Linked DNA regions of Homo sapiens: region 1 is linked to region 2. The links come from fine-mapping of genetic effects on gene expression. A gene starts in region 2. The other region holds a variant in brackets. All regions are shown on one strand. Distances are between the middles of the regions.

Region 1 (11,141 bases), 37 kb after region 2:
CTGGGATTACAGGAATGTGCCACCACACCTGGCTAATTTTGTATTTTTAATAGAGACAAGGTTTCACCATGTTGGCCAGGCTGGTCTAGAACTGCTAACCTCAGGTGATTCAGCCTTGGCTTCCCAAAGTGCTGGGATTACAGGTGTGAACCACTGCACCTGACCTCTGATCTATTTTGACTTAACTTTTGTATATGGTGTGAGGTAGGAATCCAACTTTATTCTTTCACATGTGAATATCCAAGTGTCCCAGCCATTTGTTAATAAGACTATTCTTTTTCCCTATTGAATTGTCTTGGCATCTTGTCTATCCTTCTACTCTTAAAAGTAGATTTCATCAACTCTTTACAGAAGGACCTTGCCTATAGCCAGCTCAAACTGTGAATCAGAAGACTGATTAATTAAACTATTATGATTCACATAAAAATAATTTACTAGAGTATACAGACAACACTCATAACAATGAAAACAAAGGGAAGATTCTTACTCAGCCTGGAGGAAATAGGAGAAAGATTATAGAGGGTAGTGTCATGAAAGCTTCCTGGAAAAACACACAGGCATTAGTCAGGTAGTGTGGGCAGAGTTCTAGTCAGAGCAAATAACACATGCAAAGGCTGAGAGGCAGTTGCAGCCAATCGTCCATATGGTGGGAGTGAACTAGATAATGTCACTTACTCTCTTTACCCTATATCATTTCCACCTTTTTTTTTTTTTTTTTTTTGAGACAGAGTCTCGCTCTTTCGCCCAGGCTGGAGTGCAGTGGCGCGATTTCTGCTCACTGCAAGCTCCGCCTCCCGGGTTCACGCCATTCTCCTGCCTCAGCCTCCCAAGTAGCTGGGATTACAGGTGCCCGCCACCACGCCCGGCTAATTTTTTATATTTTCAGTAGAGACGGGGTTTCACCGTGTTAGCCAGGATGGTCTCGATCTCCTGACCTCGTGATCCGCCTGCCTCGGCCTCCCAAAGTGCTGGGATTACAGGCGTGAGCCACCACGCCCGGCCTCCACCTTCTTTAGCAAGCAAAACCACATGTAATTCTCTTGCATGGATAGAATGCATTAAATCTTAAAATTTTGTTAGACTGGGACTGACCAAAAGAATATACTTAAAAGTAAAATCAAACAGACATTATGGTCCTATGTGCCCAAGAGTCTCAGGGAAAGGATAGAAACCAGCTCACACATGGGCCTGAGGAAGGCTGAGTTAGAAAAGACTTAAGTCAACTGTTATCTTAGTTTCAGTACATTCTATTTCCTACATCTTCCTAAAGGAAACCGAATTCCTAAATTTTCCTTTAAGGAGGAATATAGTCACATAATAGAATATGAACTATGTAGTGTCAGACCTAAGTTCAATCCTGGTTTTGCCACTTTTACTGGTAAGACCTTGGACAAGTTCTCTAATGTCTCTGAATCTCAGTACTCCTCCTTCTAAAACAGGGACATTAATACCACCTTGGAGGGGTCCTGTGAGGCTTACCTGAAAATGTCTAGCAGCTGACTAGAATACATGTTTAATAAGTGTTAGCTTCCTCTCTAGTCTGGTGCTCGTACACTATTCCCGCAATAATAGGGGAGAGACTTGGGCTTCTCTCCTGGAAGAATATATTTTGACCTAAAGTTGCTGTTCTTTGCTTTTGAGTAGCTGACCCTAAATGGGCAGAATTACTGTTTAACATCAGATAATCCTAGAGAGGGCAGTGGCTGAGCATAACTTTTTAATGGGAATGAGACATGTGTTTGGTCAGTAAGGAAGTAGGTTATAGGGTGATCACAGAATATTATTTTCATCGTTTTTGTACATTCTGAATCTGTCCTTGCCGGCACGAACTCTCAGGTGGCTTCTGGTCTGGGTTTGCTTTGGAATACCTGACTCAGCTTTTTGTAACTCTGCAAATAACAAGGTTAATACCTCTTCGTGTTCTATGAGCTGCTTAGTAACAGAATGCAGGGGATGCAGAGGGTTCTGTGTTGAAAGTCCTCCATTGCTCACAGGTGGATGTGACTGTGGCCGCAGTCCTGAACTTCAGTTAAGTCACGTCCCTGCTCTACAGTGGGCTCAGGGGCCTGAGGAGGTCCAGAGTCTATCCCCGTCTTTAGAATTTGACAGCTACTGCCATCATTGTTATTTCCTGTATGGGAAGTTCTTTGGAACAGCACGGTCAGAAGGAGTAAGACCAGAAAGAGTCTGAAGCTTGTTCTGGCACGATTTCACCATGATATGGAACACAATTACTATGAAAAAGAACTCTGTTACCTCCCAGCTCGTTTTGGTTCCTGATCGGAAGATAGTCTGAGCCCCGATGTCTCTCTCTTTCTAAAATTTTCCATATGAGCCAATTAAATACAGGATTCTTCTGGGTGCTAAGGAAATAATATAATGGATAATGATAAAATGAATAGTTTTATCTGCAAGGAGTTTATAATCTAGTAGAGAGCTGTATACAGTCAGGTGCCGCATAATGCCATTTTGGTTAATAACAGACGGCATGTATGATGGTGGCCCCATAAGATTATAATACCTTTTTTTCTTCTTTTTTTTGAGACAAGGTCTCACTCTGTCACCCAGGCTGGAGTACAGTGGCACGATCTCAACTCACTGCAACCTCCGTCCCCAGGGTTCAAGTGATCCTCCTGCCTCAGCTTCCTGAGTAGCTGGGACTACAGGTGTGCACCACCACGCTTGGCTAATTATTTTATTTTATTTTATTTTTGAGGCGGAGTTTCGCTCTTGTTGTCCAGGCTAGAGTGCAATGGCGTGATCTCAGCTCACGGCAACCTCCACCTCCCGGGTTCAAGCTATTCTCCTGTCTCAGCCTCCCCAGTAGCTGGGATTACAGGCATGCACCACCACGCCTGGCTAATTTTGTAATTTTAGTAGAGGCAGGGTTTCTCCATGTTGGTCAGGCTGGTCTCGAACTCCCAACCTCACATGATCTGCCCGCCTCCACCTCCCAAAGTGCTGGGATTACAGGTGTAAGCCACTGCACCTGGCCATAATACCGTATGTTTAATGCATGTTTTCCATGTTTAGATACACACATACTTACCACTGTGCTATAACTGCCTACAGTGTGTGGTACAGTAACGTGCTGTACAGGTTTGAAGTCAATTCTTGGAAAAAGCGCTCACGCCTACAGACTCCCTTCAGCATCTGCTAACAGTGCGTATGCTCAGTACTGACAGTATACACCGCATAGCCTAGATGTGTAGTAGGCTATGCCATTTGGGTTTGTATAAGTACACTCTAGGATGTCCACACAACAAAATCGCCTAACAACCCATTTCTCAGAACATGTCCCTGTCGTTAAGTGCCACATGACAATACTTGTGAAAGACTGATTGTCCTGGGACGTACTGGTAGCAGTCCTAGCGCATAGCACACAAAGTGGGTAACTCTCACCTGAGAAACTGGGTAGGCCTCACAGAGGGGGAGGCATTTGATTTGGGCCTTTCTTCAAACTGTCATGAAAATTAGGCAGTTTTGCTGGATCCTGAATTCGAGATTGAAAAACAAATTGGACTAAATTCTATTTTCTCACTATCTAACAAGAACACTGGCCACTGAGTCAGAATACCTGGGTCCTAGCCTGAATGCTGCTAGGAATTCACTCTGTGACCTTGAGCAAGACACATAGCCTCTCAGGGTCCTAATTTTTTTTTTTTTTTTTTTTTGTGACAGAGTCTTGCTGTGTCCCCCAGACTGGAGTGCAGTGGCATGATCTCGGCTCACTGCAACCTCCACCTTCTGGGTTCACGGCATTCTCTGGCCTCAGCCTCCCGAGTAGCTGGGACTATAGACGCCCGCCACCACACCCAGCTAATTTTTTGTATTTTTAGTAGAGATGGGGTTTCACTGTGTTAGCCAGGATGGTCTCGATCTCCTGACCTCATGATCCACCAGCGTCGGCCTCCCAAAGTGCTGGGATTACAGGCGTGAGCCACCGCACCCGGCCTCTTTATTTGTTAAATAGGGAGTTTGGAAGAGGGACTCTCCATGGCTCTTCCAAATTCTGAAACCCCTTTATGTCTTTGCTCCTCATTAATACATCATAAAAACGAAATGCAGAAGTTGGAGCAAGTTTTAGTCATGGAGAAAGGAGGATGAAACTAAGGCTATGGCTATTACCTACAAAGAAGCAGTTACCAGTTGCCACCTCAGCATACATTAGAGTGAAAGGACATCTCTGGACTTCAAAGGTGGGCTTAGTTTTCAAACAACCAAAAAAAAAAAAAAAACCTTACATATATTTCAGTAATTAACACTATCCTTAACTCAGCCATGTGAAAGAATACATTTAGTTCAGAATTCTCTTTCTGGGTGCTCAAGGAAAATAATAATGGAAAGATCACTCCAAAGTCATGGAGTCAAATTTCCGAGATGCCAGGCCACTAAGGAACATTTCTTCAAGGCTTGGGCTCTCTGCCTTCTCCACCTCTTGGAAAAAGTGCTCAAGCTTACAGACAGACTCCTTCCTTCCTTCCCTCAGCATCCACTGCCAGTGGGCTTGTTCAGCACTGACATTAGTGAGCAGGCAGAGGCTGGGCCTTCCACTTTACTCAACAATCCTCCTTGCATAAGCCCTTACTTCCGTTTCCTCTTCCCCTTGCAAGAACTCTCATGCACACCCATGGATTAATCACCACTTGCACACTGGTGACTCCCACAACTTCATCTCTAGCTCTGACCTTGTCTCTAAGTCTCAGACTCATAGATCCAACAACCTGCTGAATAGACAGACATGCACATAAACATACAGATGTTTCTTAGACACCTCAAGTCAGTATGTCCAAGACTGAATTCACCATCTTTTTTCCCCACCAAATCGGCTTCTCTTCTCATATCCCAAACTTGGGTGATGGCTTAACGTCCAGTCACCCAGAAAGCCAGAATCCTGGGAGCCATTCTGGACTCTTCTCCCCTCACCATTGCCCCCAAAGACACCAAAATTCTGCTAAATTTGCTTCCCCAAGTATCCTGGTATTTTCTCTTTCCCTTCTGTGCCTGCAGCAATGATCTCATTTGGGCTCTCATTGTCTTTTTCCTAAACACTG[T/C]GAGGCCTCTAGTCCTGCTGTCCATGAATTCTTCTTCCACCCCGCAGCCAGTCATCCACCTTCCGTGTATATCTGACTACCCTACTGGAGGATGGAAAATGTTCCATTGGCTAACCAGCAGCCTGTGGAGGGGTCCACATCCCCTTGCATTGTGTATACCTGAATGTGGCTCCTCTCCAGCGTCACCTCCCAATTCTTCCCACCGTGAACCTGACAGTGTCCCCTTTGCTGATGTTGTCCCCTCTAAATTGCATGTCCTTTTCATTCCTCTTACTTGGTTTCTGTTTTTAGGCCTTATCTCCTGCAGGAAGCCTCTGTGAGTCTCCAGGCTGGGCTAAGTGCCCCACCTGTGTGTTTTCAAAGGACCTTATACATACCATGATTTTTATCACTTACCATGTTATATTAAAATTATATAGTGACATATGTCTTGCCCATTAGTCTACAGAATCTTCAAGAGCAGAGACCTTATCATCTCCATCATAAACTAGCACAAGCTTGATATATAATAATAGTTCTTAAACTGAACTGAACTGATGAGCTTAGCCTTAATCTTGAATCAAGAGAACACCATCTCCTAAATCTAGCCATTGGTAAAATTGTTGGTACCATCACTATTTTCGTACAGTTCTTAGAGCTAGGTAAGTCCTTTGATTTCTACTACTGTATCTCACAGACTAGCATATGTGCGAATCCTCTCCCCCCAGATGATATCTGAAATCACAAGATGAACATAATCCTGGAGTATCAATTTCACCTGAAGATTCTGGAAAAATGATTTTCATTTGAAAACAGATACAGACATATTTTGGGGTAGCATAAATTTTTTAGTATTAAGAGAGACTGCACTTATGTCAGGCTGTTCTCAGCCAAGTCTCCAGGTCCCTGGGAGTTTAGATTCTATTGTTAGTGCTGATGATTAAGAAACACTAATCTACAGATCACTGTTTTGCACTGTAGTTTAGTTACTGTTCTAAAGCCTCCCATAGAGAAATAAACAGCCCCAGTGAGACCAGAGCAGGAGCTATCTCAGTAATGGCCAGAAGAGAGAGACTTTCATCATGGGTCTGAGTTAGGTTTGAAAAGATGTCTGTCTGATTGACAGGTAGGTATTCTGAAATCAGCATAACAATGTGCTTTGTATAATGTATAAAATATGCCAGATTGTAGATCAATGTAGGGGAGGAGGCAGAAAAATGACCATTAGAACAGATCAAAGAGAAGCTCTGGATCAAAGTAGAGGCCGATCAAAGACACTGGAAGGAAGGGAAGGGCACTACAGTCAAGGGATGGAACATGAGGAAAAAAATAATCCAAACTGAACTGTGGCTCAGGAGGGACTCGATGCAGGGTGGTTGGTGATAACCTAAGAAATAATTAGATATTTAGTAAGGTGATATGGGAGTTTTGAATCCTGGAAATTCGACTTAGAGTCCTAGTAGTTAGATATCTTTCAAGTTTGTTTTCTTATAGCTATTCCATACCATCAGATTTGAGAATGAGGTAGCATCATCCAAGAGGTGGTGACATAAAAAGACGTAAGAGAAACAGAGGAAATAGCAAGGGGACAGGTAGGAAGGGCTAGTTTAAAACAGATAATAGGGTCAATTTAAGTCAACTAACATTTATCAAGTGCCTATTATGCATAAGGCACTATTCTGGGTGATGGAGTTGCAGAGGTGACAAGCCTGGGCCCGTGCTGTCAGGGAGTTTGCAGTCTTTGTTGAAGTCGCCTAAGAAGGAAAAGCTAACAGCAAAAAATCCAGGGTCTAATGGGCAGGCTTTCCAAGTGAGAGGCCTTAGGAAGCTAAAGCAGGAACCATTCCTATCAAACGTAGTATCTGTTCCCTTCACGTGATCTAAACCTTTCCCAGGGAAAAAAAAAAAAAAAGATGAATCTGCTCCAAGTTTTGATGATCACTGTGGGGCTGTACAAGGGAAAAATTGCATGGATTTGGAGGGTTACCTTCAAGGGCAGAAATTCTGTCCCAAATTCTAGAGGTATTAGAAAAATGTTTTCCCAATATAATCGATATTTTGCAAATGGTTATCAAAAAGTAAATTAGTTGTACATGTATTCAAAGAGTTTTCATTCCTTGGTATCTCAGAGCTTTTTCAATAGAAAAGAAAATGTGGAGAACATCAGCAACTTCAAAGTGGAGGCAGAGTCAAGGACACATTTCCCATTTTGAATCCTAGACCTCCACCTATCCACCTTACAACAAGAACCTCTGCTGTTAAGCAGATGACATAATAAATACATCTAAGTTATTATGTGACTTTTCTCAAACAGGAATAAATGGCTAGAAATGAGATCTTTCTACAGAGAAACCCATTATATGTACTAGAAAGCACTAGAGACAGGCGATAAGCCATCAAGAAGGCTTTCTCTGCCTAACCACCCTACAATGAAGCCAGCCAACTTACAAACCATGCTCACAGATGACGCACAGCATCCCTAAACATGTATAAAACTTCCAACATGAAAGGCAGGCCAAAAGCAACATTAAAAGTCACTTTGAAAATAGACACAGACATTGTAGGTAGCTGAAGAAAACTTTTAAAATGTAGAAAAAGTACTGAGTTAATATTCTCAGAGAAATAAGAGAAGATACTGCATTCATGAAATGAGAACAGGATACTGTAAAAACCATTTAGAAGACCACACCTCTCGCCAATAAAAGCTCCTGATAATTAAAAATGTAATGGTAGAATGTAAACATTTAATAGCAGTGTTGGAAGATTTATTAGAACTAAAAAACATGGGATTTTTTTAAAATAAAAAAGATAAAATCACAAGACAAATCCAAGAGATCCCATTTTCAGATTCAGTCTAAGTAATTTAAGTTTCAGAAAGAAAGAACGAGAAAATTATATAACAGAAGAAAACCACTCAGAACCGAAGAATGTAATTTTTGGATTGAAAAGACCTATAAAATACCTAGGACAGTGACTGATACCTCCCTGTATCTCCCTGCCAAAAAACCCCACCCCAACATTAAATAACAGCATCATGAAATATCAGAATATGAACAACAAAGAAAACCCTACAAATGCCCAGAGATTAAAACAAAATACAAGGGATCAGGAATTAGAATGGCATCAGCTTCTCAACAGCACCATAAGAAAATAGAATAAAATAGAGCAATGTTTTCAAAATTCGGACAGGAAATGATTTCTGATTAATATCCCATACCCAGCCAAACCAGCAATCAAGTGTGAAGGAAGAAAAGTGACATCTTAAATGGGCACAAGCTCAAAAAGCAACCGCCTCTTATGGGGCCTGAATCTTAGACACTTTTGGGAGCCTTCTTTAAGAAAAAGGCGTAAAATTACAAAAACTGTACATAATTGGGTATGAAAGTACATATGTATTCCACAAGAGATGGCCTAGACAGAAAAAAAAGTGCGTATGTATGTATGTATTTAGAATGAGAAAATAAATCACAACAGACAGGGACCGTGGAGGTTCTAGACTCTGTCTTTTCAGATGTGCTTAGAAAATTTACCCCAAATGCTTCTTGATGGCAGCCTGGCTTTTCCTCCCCACTCAACAGCTCCATGCAATTAGTAGCACTCAGAGGGCCCCCATGAGTTTCCTTGGCTCCAGGAAATGAGTTCTTGGAGATGAGTTCTCAAACAAACAACTAAAGAAAATGTAGCAATTCCTACACCCCATTCCATGGGGTGGGGGGAAAGACTGGTCAAGAAGGGGAATGTAAAGATCATGGTGTGTCATGTGCCTTAGTTGGGAATAATATACACACCAAACATTGACATATCAAAAATTTAGGATATAACCGTATTGGGAACTTAAAAGAAAGGGATGTGAAGGTGAGAGGGAGGGTGGGGGTGTAAAGGAGCAAACCGTCATCCTTCTTGGTAGGATGTCAATAGATGTTACCCAGAACTGGAAAAGAGAAGAAGAAATGGCCCGTATTTGCATGCTATTTAGGATATGGTAATATCAGAAAAACACAACCCAAAGCATTGAAAGTAATTGCCACTAGGGTTCTATACTCAGTATAAACTCAATAAAAACCTTCTACAATGAACGACTTCTAAGGCTATACATTGATTTATGTTGACCAAAGTAGAAAATTAAAAAATAAAGTAATATCCTCAAGAGGAGTGAGGCAAAAAGCTAACGGAAATAAAATAAAGGCACTTCTGCTAAACTACCCGACATTCGGTGTTTCTCAAAATGTATTCCCGCAACCACCTGCCCTCAGATGACCTGGCGTGCCCGTCCGGAATGGAGATTTATAGACCCAGCCCAGACCTACATCATCAGCAGTTCTCAGAGTGGTCCTTGCACTCTACCATTTAAAAAAGTTCCTCTAGACCCACTGCATTACCCATTGCTTTTTAGTAAAACAAACAAAAAACCAAAACAAATAACAACCTATTTAGAGATAGGATCTACGACTCATAAAACACACTATGGCAGATGCTGCTAGCTGCCTACCCAATGTTCATTCTCCCCCCTGCCTTATTAACAAAATTCCTATTTTGTTATTATTACTATTTTTTGAGATGGAGTTTTGCTCTTGTTGTCCAGGCTGGAGAGCAAGTGGCATGATTTCGGCTCACTGCAACCTCTGCCTCCTGGGTTCAAGCGATTCTCCTGCCTCAGCCTCCTGAGTAGCTGGGACTATAGGCACCTGCTAGCATGCCTGGCTGATTTTTTGTGTTTTTAGTAGAGATGGGGTTTCACCATGTTGGCCAGGCTGGTCTTGAACTCCTGACCTCAGGTGATCCACCCGCCTTGACCTCCCAAAGTGCTAGAATTACAGGCGTGAGCCACTGTGCCTGGCCCAAAATTCTTACTTTGATGTATTGGCATCGTGTCCGTCTAAAACACTAGATTCTCTCAGGTTCCCTCACCTTTAATAGTGTGTATGTGATATGGTTCTGGCCAATGACATGTAAGAAGTCTTTTGGGGTGGGCTACCAGAAAAGCTATTATTATTATTATTTATTATAAAGAAGGACAAGCCAGGCGCGGCGGCTCACATCTGTAATCTCAGCACTTTGGGAGGCCGAGGGGGGCAGATCACAAGGTCAGGAGTTCAAGACCAGCCTGACCAACATGGTGAAACCCCGTCTCTACTAAAAATACAAAAATTAGCTGGGCGTGGTGGTGCACGCCTGTAATCCCAGCTACTTGGAGGCTGAGGCAAGAGAATCACTTGAACCCTGGGAAGCGGAGGTTGCAGTGAGCTGAGATTGTGCCACTGAGTGAGACTCCATCTCAAAAGAAAGAAAGAGACGAGAGAGAGACAGAGAGAGAAAAGAAAAGAAAAGAAGAGAGAAAAGAAAAGAAAAAAAAAGACAAGACAAGACAAGACTCTTCTGGAGCATGCCTCTGCCCGTCTTTCTGCTGCAACTTGGGGAAGTGAGGATGAGAGCTCCATGCTAAGGAGGGTGGTGCGGGAAGACACAAGGAACCTGTCTCAGATGAGTTCATATCGGAACCCCTTTCCCAGCCTCAGGCTTCTCACCTCCAGACTTCTCCTTCTCTGAGAAAAACAAACTCCTTACTTGTTTAAGCCGTTGTAGTAGGGTTTTCTGTTCTTGTAGCTGAATGAACTTCTAATGACATGTCATACTTTTTCAGATGTTTATCTGACATACTGACCACATTTTATGTATGCCTGCTATGGGCACTGTGCTAGGAATAAGACAAGTAAAGCTCTGTTTGTCATGGAACCAGGAGAACAGTTAGAACAGAAGTTAGAACTTTAGCCACTATAATAACGGCTACAGTTAGAACAGAAGGTACATAGGCATTTCAGGCTGGGATTCAGGGAGGTTATGTTTGCTGTCACAGACCTCAAACCAAAAGAGTACATCAAAATAAGTCACTGGATTTATACATTTGGCAAATTCTCAAGAGACCACATGACAGAAGGAGCAATAATCTGAACATTGCTTTTAGCTGTAATTCTCCAATGAAGTAGATTTGGGGAAGCAACATGAGGTACTTGCTTTATTTTTTTAAATCCGTTTTTTTTCTTTGAAAAACCACAAGATTGGACTTGACAATCTTTAAGGTTATACCCAGCTCTAAGATATTTTTGTAAT
Region 2 (11,141 bases):
GGTGAAACCCTGTCTCTACTAAAAACACACACACAAAAAATTAGCTGGGCACGGTGGTGCACGCCTGTAATCCCAGCTACTTGGGAGGCTGAATCACTTGAGCCCTGGAGGCGGAGGTTATAGTGAGCAGAGATCATGCCATGGCATTCCAGCCTGGCTGTAGTTGAGCCAGAAGGAGATATTTTGTGTGAAGGCTGAGGTGGGGGCTCTTCAGAGCCTCTGTGAGCAGGAGGCCTAAGCCGTGGTGGTGGACAGAGTTGTAGCTTTCTGCCTCTTTGCCCTTTGGCATGGACCCACAGGTGAACAGTACCAGCCTCCATCCCCAGCACACGCTCTGCAGACCTTCACGTCTCACAGTTCCATGTGAGCAAATGGACTGGGAAAGCTGTGTGGCCTGAGAAAAGGCAATGCCATGGCCTGGCTCTCACACAGTATTTTGTCTTGGATTTTGAAAAAGCCTTTTTTTTTTTAAATTTAATTTAATTTTTTTTTTTTTTTTTTTGCTTGTTTTGTGTTTTTGGTGGTGGTGGTGGTGGTGGTTTATTTCACACTGACCACTTGGAACAAATCCCATGGTTATCTGTGATTTTCATGCCCTGTTTCTGCTGGCAACCCTTCTGAGTGGGGTGACTCACTTTCCTGTATAAAGAGTTTGAGTAGCCCAGGTAGGAGGTGGAAGCAGCCATCTGGAAGGCCATTGGGATCCTTATGTCTGTCTCTTGGCTTCAGATAACCAGCTGGGCTTTGATAGGAATGATCTGAATGGAGACAGAAAACAGTGAAAACTAACGCTCCCCGCCCAGCCCTGTTTATATGAAGCATTTGGTTCCTCTCTTGACTCTTGAGTGATGATGAGATTCAGACGAGGCATTGACATTATGGTAAGAAAGGGAGAAAATGTATCTGTCTTGTCTGTCTATCTATCTACTGGATATATAGCTCCAAAAGCAGACAAACCCAAGGCCGTAAGGTGAACTAGGGTCTGCGTTTGGACTCCATGAAAACAAAATCCATGTTGAACAAAGTGATGTTTGTATGCAGTGACATTCTGGGTGACCCGTGTGTATCTGTCCATCGTGTGCAAGCCCTGAGCCCTGTTTCCCTCGGAAGATAGTGAGTGGTAGCCATCTCCTCACACGAACCACACATGTGGAGCACAGATGGCCCTCTCAAGGTAATTGATCTTACACATTTACTGTTCACCAAACAAGTGTCTGATGCATACTTGGGTATATTCCACAGCATGTGGACTGCGGTCCCCTGTGTTTGCCAGGAATGCTGTGCTCCATGTAGAGGTTTTCCTCTACTCCTCACTGCAATTTGCATGCTGCTCCATGGACACTTGGAGGCCTGTGCTCTGTTCCCTGTAACTGGAAATGTGCTCTGAACTTGTCTGTCTCCCTTGGCTGCTCCTGGCCCTTGGTACCAGCTCCCATGGGTGTCCACAACCACTTGGGACAGAAGGTAAAGGTGGAATTTCAAAGAGAAGCTTGCTTGGATCTTCAGTGACAAGCTTGGATGAGCTACATCCCTAACATGGGCCCTCTCAGAATTGCCAGGAGGAGGCTTTGGCAGGTGTCACAGGTGTCACGGGGCCTGCCCTCCTCTGCTGCGTGCAGTGGATGCAAGCCAGCCAACGTGTGGCCAGAGTGGCTGGATGGTGTCACAGCCCTCAGATGTCTTTCCTTCCACGTTTTTAAAAGAGTCCCAAATAACTCACTTGAAGTGTCTCAAAGGTGAGCAAGTTTTATGAAAATGAATCCTTCCTCAGTTAATTGATCAAATGGGTGAATCTTGACCCTCTCTAATTTCTATCCCAGGTCAGAGTGGGGAGCTGGTGTTAGCTGTGGGATTCACTGCAGCGTCCTACCACAAAGGCAAAGAAGATGAAAATGCAGCGTGCAGTGCTGGGCTTGATTCCCAAGTCGCAGTCGGGCTCCCGCTATGGTAGGTGGAACATCTCTCTAGCCTGCTCACAGAGATGGAACTAGGGAATTGAGGGAAGAGTTAGGGGGCCAGGGAGATTTACTTGAGTCTGATTTTCCAGGTGAATGAGAAGGGAGGGCTTGGTGCTGACACATTCTTGGGAGAGGCATGTCATCACCAACAGCATTTGTCATGATTGTTGTATTTTAGCAATAAGATTCAGCTCGTCAGATTTTTTGGGCCACCTCGAAGATGCTGACACATTTTCTGTGCTGTGATTGTTCGAAGGCAGAGTAGCTCTAACCACTGTGAGAAGCCCAAAGAAAAATCAATACCACCCACCCAAAGACCACCTTTCTGAAACACTTTTCTCTAGAAAACAGTGCCCCTTTTGTCCTAAGCTTCGTATTATTTTTGGATTCCATCTCTTTGTATATGCTACTCTAGTGTACCATGGAACACATTTTGGGAGCTGGCGGCTCTGCTTACCCTTCAGGGGGACAGCCCTGTCTGACCTGAGATTGGAGGATGCTTTCCAGTGTGAAGGAGTGTGAGGGAGCCGGCACAGACACAGAGTGAGAGCAGGGCCACTTTATTGGTATAGAGACTGCAGAGGGACCGGGGGCTTTAGCTGTTGGCAGCGATGGTGTCCTTAATCCAGTCCACATAGTTGTAGACCTTGGTGTAGACTCCAGGCCTGTTCTTCCAGGCACAGCCATGGCCCCAGGAGACAACTCCTTGGAGCTGTCCGTTGCAGACCACAGGGCCACCAGAGTCACGCTGGGGAGAAGAAGGGACAAGTTGTATAAAGAGAGAGATGGAGGAGGAATATAGCTACATTTACTGTGAACCTTAAAAGACCCCTTTCCAGCCAGCTCTGTGGCTCCACGTCCTTCCCACGGTGGCCCATTCTCTGTTCTTCCTAAGCAGGCAGCGTGCAGCACAAGGGAGCCTCCCTCATTTCCCAATGGGGGCACTGCAGGGAGCCTCCTCAGCCCCGCCACCTTCCTCGTTTCTCCATGGGGGCAATGCAGGGAGCCGCCTCAGCCCCGCCACCTTCCTCATTTCTCCATGGGAGCACTGCAGGGAGCCGCCTCAGCCCTGCCACCTTGGGAGTTCAAATCTTTTTCCCCGGTGGGGCCTGGGTATCGGTGGGAGCCTCAGCATGGGAAAGGGTCAAATCACCTGGCAGGAATCCTTGCCTCCCTCAAGGAAGCCCACACAGAACATGCTGTTGGTAATCTTTCCAGGGTAGGAGGCTTTACACTCAGCCTGGGTCAGCACCGGAGCATCCAGGCACTTCAGCTCGTCTGGGTAGTCAGCTGTGAGGATCAGGAAGAGATCAAAGAAAGTAGAAATGTGGGTGAGGCCAGAGAAGGAGACAATAATCTGGGATGGAACATTGAAGAGGAACACTGCCTCTGGAGAGGACTCCAAAACGTAAGTTCTGGCAAGGGACTCTGGCTTTTAGTTTCCAGAATGATCATTGTTGAACCCCTCCCAAGACGTGATCACAGCAAGTTCTCCATTTGTCCTATCTCTTGATTTTAGGAGCCAAGTCCTTGAGACTTTGCATCTCTCTGGTGCCCAGTGCAGAGACTGTGTGTAATGGGCACTAGAAATGTGTCTTAAGCCGGGAGGCAAGAGGATTCAAATAAAGGGGCATGCTTCGTTCTGGAAATTGTGAGGATGGGGGGAAGTAGAAGGACAAAGGGTCCCACTCACCACCAAAGCTCAGAGTGTTGCCCCAGCCGGAGATGAGGCACTCAGTGCCAGCAGCTGGAGGGGTGGTGGGCAGAGAGATGGTGGACACGCGGGCATTGATGACGGCAGGTGAGGAGAGTTTGATCAGCATGATGTCATTGTCCAGAGTGTCCCTGTTGTATTTAGGGTGGCGGATGATCTTGGCCGCATTGATGAACTGCTCATTCCCCTCCAGGACTTTGATGTTGTGCTCTCCCAGTCTCACCTGGATGCGGCTGATGGGCAGGGCAGGCATGGTGAAGACCTTCTCCCACAGCCTGGGCACCCCTCCCACCTTCCCCAGGGTCCTCAAGCTCACTGCTCATGGATAGCTCTGGAGGCATGGGGTGGGGTGTGTGGCCATATTGCATGGGCAGGAGAGGGATGTGGGTCAGTGCAGGTGTGAGACCCAGGACCTTTCTGCTTCAGAGGCTGGTGGTAGTGGGGTGGGGAAGAGTCAAAGGGATCCCACCAGAGGCTGCTCCTCAACCTGCCTTCCCAGCCTCTTTCCCACAAATCTCCACAGTCACTAGCACTGTGGGCACAAAGAGCTCCTCGTAGTTTTCCCAGCATTCTTCACCCCAGGTCTTTGCTAACTGCGCACAGCGCCTGTTCCTCCCTCCCTTCTTGGCCTAGTGAGCACCACCCTTCTGTGTAATCTAATCCAAGGGTAGCCATAGCATTAGCATCTCCTGGGAACTTGTTAGAAATGTAAATTCTTGGTCCTTACCCCCACCCGCTGATCAGAACCTTGGGGATGGGACCCAGTGATTTGTGCTTTAATAAGCCTGCAGGTGGTTTTGACGCATACTCAGGTTTGAGAGTTCTTCGTGTAGGCAGCGGTTCTCAGCTCTGTCTATACACTCTACAGTTACCAGAGGTAGAGTGTTAAATACTCACTGGTATTCACACTGTCTTCCTGAGAAGTTTGAGTTAATTGCCCTGGGGTAGGACACAGGCATCAGTATTTTCAAAAACTCTGTCTTAGGTCGCTTTAATGTGTAGCTAACCAGCAAAAGGTACTTGCCTGCTTTTGTCACTAGCTCTGACAACTCCAAGATTATCCCTGCCTGCTTTTATGACCACAACCCTTGCTGTTTCATGGATTGGCCTTGCTCTGGAGAGTCAGCTGCTGTCAACAAGTTTTCTTTTCCACCACCTCTCCCATCCGTCTTACCCAACCTCAGTACTTCCCTGGGCTGAAGCCAAGCTCTCCCAGGCAGCCTGGCTGGGAGCTTTGCAGTCAGGGGCCCCACACTTACGTCTTGTAGCAGTGAGCTGCTGATACCACCCACTGTTCGCTGATGAGGGAGCCACCGCAGAAGTGGGAGCCAGAATTCAGGGACACCTGGTAGGGGAGAGAATTCTCCTCACAGGTGTAGCCCCCAACAATCTTGTCATCATCGTCAAAGGGGACAGCAACTGGAGTGGAAATAGGAAGGGAGAAGGCAAGTCAGTAGCATGTTAGGGGTGGTGCTCCCAGCCTGCGGTTGCTTCCTGCCAATTAGAAATCCTTAACAAGCCCAGTGAGGCCAGGCAAGGGAGGGAGCGCTGCCACCCCTGGTGAGCATCACTGGATGTGGCTCCCAAGTCTCTGTGTCTGCAGGGCACGTAGCTAGGTACCCTGCAGGGGCTCAGATCTCTCCTGGGGACACCAGGCTGAGGATGCAAGGAATGTCCTCAAAATGCTTCCAGTGGGGTAGCAGTTGGTATGTTGTTGTCTCACCCACTGAGTGCTTCTCTCTTTTATTCATCACCTGTGTACTTGCCCTGGCTATTTGAGCCCTGGATTGTCAGGATACTTTGGCTAAGCTAGGAAAACCCCCTGTCTGGGTAGACCTGGCCATGACTAGCTTCCCCCATAGCTCAGATCTGTGCAGTGAGGGCAGAGTTGAGGGCAGCCCCAGGCTCACTTTGGCATAACAAAGGTAGACTTTGTTATTGGCCAATAGAAGAGCAATTCTTAACTTTGGCGGCATGCCTGGAAACGTTAAAAATCACCTGGGAAGCTTAAAAGCCCAGTACACAGGCTGCACCCCAGACAAATGAAGTTAGAACTTCTAGAGTTGAATCTCTGGCATGAGTAATTTTTGAACCTCCCCAGGTGCATTCGAGGTTAAGAGCAGCTATAGTGGTGCTATACTGGTGCTCTTGGAGCCAAGCCTGAAGCCTGCCACTTCATTTCATGGGCCAGCCCCACCTGGTCTCCCTTCCCAGCTTCTCCAACCACAGCTCGGATATGGATGAATGACAGTGGTGGGAGTGAAATGAGGGAAAAGGTGAAACAGGTGAGGCTTAAAGAGAGCCCAAGGAGGATGGGAAGGAGATATGTCAGATGGAGGAAATAGAATATCAGAGCGCAGTCAAAAGAGGAGAGGTGGCAAGAATGGCAGGGCATGTGTCTGCCAGGAAAGGGGGTGGGTGGGGCCTGAGGCAGGTCATGAAACTCGCCAGCAGCTCCCACAAAGGCAAGGATCAGGAATGGATTCATGGTGGTAGAGTGTGCCTGACTGGTGGTGGAAGGCCTGTCCTTATACCCTTCCAAGAATCAGGAGAGGAGGTGTCTGTGAGGTGAGGGTCACAGTTCTTCCCAGCACAAACACACCTGCAGCTTTCCCCTTGCCAGGGTCTTGCATCAGCTCGGCTACGTTTGGCCACTCTGTGGGTTTGTGATTCACAGGTGATAAGGAAACTTGCCTTCTGAGAGCAGAGAGGGAGACTGGCTATTTCCTGGAAGGATGCTGGGATGGGGAAGACAGGGGAAACCAATCCCCGGATCACACAGCTGGGCTTTCGTAGGCCGAGGAGATGAGGGTTAGAAGGAGGGAGAATGGCCTGGGTGTCTAGGAGTCCTTTTAACTATTGGGGATGTATTTAATAATGTACTTAAGGAAGGGCAAGCATTGGTAACAAGCTTGGCTTTTCAGTTTCCTGGAGCCCCCACGAGAGGAGGAAAGTCTTATCTAAGGCTCATTTTTGTGAATATGAATATGCTTCTTTGCAGTCACTGTGCACAAAGGTCAAATCCAAGACTTTGGGTATCCAGAATTCCAACACTAAGGGGTAAGGAGAAGGGAGACTTAGCATTCCATAGGATTCTGGGCTTCCAGATGGCTCTCCTTCCTACCAAGGCTTAAAAGGATGGGAAGTGTTTCAAAGAAGGAGGGGACACAGGTTAGGTAGGAGCTTACTCAGTGCATCTGGAGGATGGAAAACCAATGGCGCACTCCTCCCCTTCTTCAATGTGAAGCCACTTGTCTCTCTCATGTGCATCCTGTCATAGGTTCTTTTTATGCAGCCTCACGGTTGTCCTGGCAACCTGCACTTAGGGTGATGCAAACTGACTCACCTGCTCAGGGCTGACAGCCTGAACCAGAATGACATGCCCCTGATCAGATGTCAGAGTTTGGACCATGGTAAATCTGGGTTACCATCTGATCTGAGAATCAGCAGTAGGTAGAGATTTTAGCACATGGTAAATGGGTCACATATTGGGATCAATAAGAAGATGTGGAGGGGTGGGTCTAGAATTTTCTATTTTAGATGCAGTGAGATTATGCTGGGCTTAGTATCAAGTGAATCTTCCCAGAGAATATCCTGATTTGGGCCCTACCAAGGCTACTAAGACACAGTTGTGTAATTGACTGAGGCACAACCTGGCCAGAGTAGTGTGGAGATGGAGATGCTGTCTGTGATCAAGTCTAATGATGTAAGGAAAGGAGGAGCTTCCTTATGAGGGTGCTTTCCCTTCTCAGCAACTCTGAGCTCAGGTTGGTGATGGGCAGGAGTGAGCAGAGTTCAAGTTTAAATTCTTTGAAAAGTAAAAGAAGCAGAGATGTTCTGGAGATGGTGAACAAAATGAGAAAAGCTCAGAAACTTCGTGTTGAGATCGGACATGGCCAGGGGGCTAGAGGGAGGAAGCAAATGGAAACCAGAGGGAATTGGAAAAAATGCGAATGTGGGGCCCGTGGAGTTGAGAGGACACACAGAGTACCTTCAGGTTCAGCTCCTGGCATGGCCAACGAGCCAGCTTCCCCAAAGCCAGGAGATCCACTGCTCAGAGACCCGCTCTCCACCCCACATCCCCTCTAATCACTGATGGGCTCATACCTAACACTGCTGTACTTAGATGGTGCATGGTGCCTGACAGCTTTACAAGAGTTTTCACATAAGCAACAGTGGTACATTGCTTTTCAGTTATGCTGAGTTTCACAGTTTGACTTCCCACAAACATGCTAATTGTGATTTGTGCAGAGCAAAATTATTTCCATTTATAGAGGAAGAGACTGAGATTCAGAAGGATTCTGTCTTGCCCAAGAATACAGATCTTGGCAGAGCTCACCATAAGGCCAACGGAAGCCATGGAGATCATTGTGAACTGTGGGAATTGCTGCAGGTGACATCTAAAAGGAGATTTATTGAGGATCAAGGCAGAGGTCCCCAGAGGACAAACTGTGCATCTGATTCCTTCCTCCTGCTTTTCTTCCTGGCAGAAATAGATGATTGAATTCATCTTTCTCCTGGCACCTTGTCTCAGAGACTTCCCTTGCCACAGTTCCAGACCCATCCAGGCCATGACTGCCATGTAGATGACACACCTCTCTGCTCACAAATGACTGGCCAAGCCTGAGGTATCCAGGTTTTGGAGCATTGATAATATGGGTTTTTCCTGTGTTGCCCCTAAACATGTTGTTTCATTTTGTCCCCTTGTCATGGGGTCTTCACACAACTCCTGCCTTAGAGGATAAGGAAAGGCTCTTGCTGTAGCAACTGTAGACACCAGTGTGCACTAAATAGGGAGGTGAACCTTGGCAGAAGATGGAAACTTTTTTTGGAGAACGGGATTTTTGGATCAGTGCTTGTGGCTCTGACTCTGTCTGAAAGGAACACCCAAGAATATGAGGATTTTCTGTATCTAGAGCTTGAAGATTAGCCTTCTCCAGTATTTTGCGCTCTTCCTTAAATGATCACAGTATAGTCTGAGGTCAGCTTTCTTCAAAAAGGAATGACCTTACAGGCAGAGAAGATAGCTATAGGTGGAGACTGTTACCTCATACTGTAGACTCAGATGTGTAGGATAGGTTCAGATCCAGCTGCCCAAGCTCAATTTGGAGGACATGCCATTCTTGGTACTCTTCATCCTGAACTAGAGATTTCTTTGTCTTCTTCTCTAAGACATCTTTCTGGCTTGTACTGAGTGCTTAGCACATCAAACCACTGTCCTTCAATTTTGATAACAGTGAATCAATTCTGTGTGCTTACTATATACCATGTTACTATACAGCATGTAACTCATATAAGTTAAGAATTTTTTCTTCATTTTACATTACAACCACTTATGCGATTGCCCATTTTCCAGGTGATTAAATGAGCTTTCTGGAGGTAAAGTGACTTGCTCAAGGCCACACAGCCAGTAGGTTTTAAAGATGGGATGTAAGTATGGTGGTCTGACTCTAGGGCCTCCATGCTCTGCCATAGGGCATTCTGCTTTGCCTCCTCTGAGCTGATCCTTGGTGCACCCTCACTGAGGTGGTAGGCAGCAGATATTGTTCTCTCCTTTTTACAAATCAACAATCTAAAACTCAGAGTTCAAATGACTTCTCCAGCAAAGATCATACTAGAACCTTCCCTATTCAGACAAAGTTTGTTCCTCTTCACGTTGCTACATGAGTCTTTCAGACCTCATAGTAGTCTGAAAAGTGTCAGATTCCAAATTCTTTTTTTTTTAACACTTTCTTCTCCAAATCCCACCAGATCTTTCTCCTAAGCTCTTAGTCAACTCCTCCTTGGGTTCCAGCATCCTTTATCATTCTGCAAACAGATTGTCAGATTTTAGGCTGTCTTCCCGCCAAACTCCCAGCTCCTCTCCTCATCCATTATTTTTCTTTTTTTCTAAGCTTCTTATCTCCCCCACGGCACAATTTCGCTTTATCCAATAAGGAATTGTTTTTGTTACTATCTCATCCCAGGAATCACTGAATCTGGAGAGTGAAGGGAGTGCTCTGTATGATCCAGAAAAGTCTGACTTGTAATATGGAGTCGCAGAGCATGAACTGGTCAAGGCTGATCAGCTAAATGGAGTAGCCCATTCCTCCCTGCCTGCCTCCTGCCCCTCCTCTTGCCTGCCCCTTGCCCCTCCTTCTGCCTGCCCAGCTGCTCCCCACCTTGAAGCCATGGAAGACATGCAAGTTTTATGCCCGGAGGGAAGTTTATAGTTCTGTTTATTCTTCAGGCTTCCATGTATGGGTAAATGGGGAAGCCTCTAGCACTTGAGACTAAACCTAAATTATTTTAAGGATAGATTGATTGCTGTAATATAATGGTGAGTCTTTCTGTTCACATTTCAGCCACTCCTTGACCACTCTCTTGTTTGGCCTATTAGAGCTGCTTAAGTGAGTCCAGGCTCCCTTAGACAGGAAGCAGAAGAAAGCCAGGACAGAGTGCAGGAGAAACACCCATATAGATTCTTATGATTGTAACATCTAGGATCTGTTTCATGATACTCAGAGTTTAATATATGGTGTATGTATTTATTTTTCTAAATTATACTAGCTCTAAATTGAGGCTCACAAGCTGGGTTTGGTGATAAATCCAGTCAACTGGGTTCCTTCTACTCATTTAGCTTATAAAAGTCTAGACTGTGTCATCCATTTGGAAGGCAGCCAACGGGTCAGTCATTTCCTCAAGATCGTCTTGGCCAGGAGGGCCTTCAAAAGGCTCCCAAGGCTCAGAACTGAGTGCTCCATCCACACAGGCACCAGCACAATTCCAATTGAGAACCTTCCACCCCAGAGCCACTGTGTTTGAGCAGGTTCTGCACTTTGCTTCTCTGTAGAACCCATATCATCTGTTCCATTTCCCAGTCTTGGGTAAGGCAGCAGAAGGGGATTGGCACATGACATGTGTACCTTTCTATTCAAATACAAAGCTTGTTATCTGTAGTCTTCCTACAGTTCTGTAAAACACTGGAAGTTATTCCTCCTATCTAGCTGTAATTTTGTGTCCTTTAATCTTTTCCTATCCTCCCCGCAACTAAAACATAAATTTGAAACAAGAATAAAAAATATAAAGTTTGAAGTGCTTATTCCTTTCCTGTTAGAATAATCTAGTTAATTTTCTTATGGGCTTAGATTATCTAAACTCAAATGCCTTTGTAGAGTTTTCCTCCAGGGAAATCCACTGCAGCTGTATAAATTTTCCTCTTTTCTTTGAAATCATATTTATTTACTCACAAATATTTATTGAATTCCTGGAGTGATATTCCAGGAGTTCTTCTAGGCTATTTGGAAGCAGCAATGAAGAAGATAGAAAAGGTTCTTGTTTCAGTGCATTTGTGAGTACACGTGCATGCATTTATGCACATGTGAGGAGGTATAGAAATGGGATGCACATACATCGCTTTCAGTAAATGATGAGTATATATTAGTAAAATAGGATAAAGTGATAATATAATATGGGATGACTGCTGAAGT

Evidence for each region.
Region 1: its variant is fine-mapped to the expression of PRSS3 in hypothalamus (GTEx, PIP above 0.99).

The regions. Positions count from the first base shown.
Region 1 is chr9:33,753,279-33,764,419 of GRCh38, reverse strand. All of the region lies in intron 3 of UBE2R2-AS1 (UBE2R2 antisense RNA 1), which reads left to right. It also overlaps a transcript of PRSS3 not described here. Among named protein-coding and RNA genes, the nearest start is that of PRSS3, 37 kb to the left of the region's middle. RefSeq lists a silencer at 502-702. The variant T/C (reference allele first, on the strand shown) is at 5,055.
Region 2 is chr9:33,790,593-33,801,733 of GRCh38, reverse strand. PRSS3 (serine protease 3) reads right to left here and starts at 6,173. Exons shown (of 5, transcript NM_002771.4): 1 at 6,121-6,173; 2 at 4,932-5,091; 3 at 3,652-3,905; 4 at 3,112-3,248; 5 at 2,503-2,706. The coding sequence starts at 6,160. The coding sequence ends at 2,554. It overlaps UBE2R2-AS1 (UBE2R2 antisense RNA 1), which reads left to right. Exons shown (of 5, transcript NR_170204.1): 2 at 1,821-1,951; 3 at 3,182-3,366. RefSeq lists an enhancer at 5,124-5,624.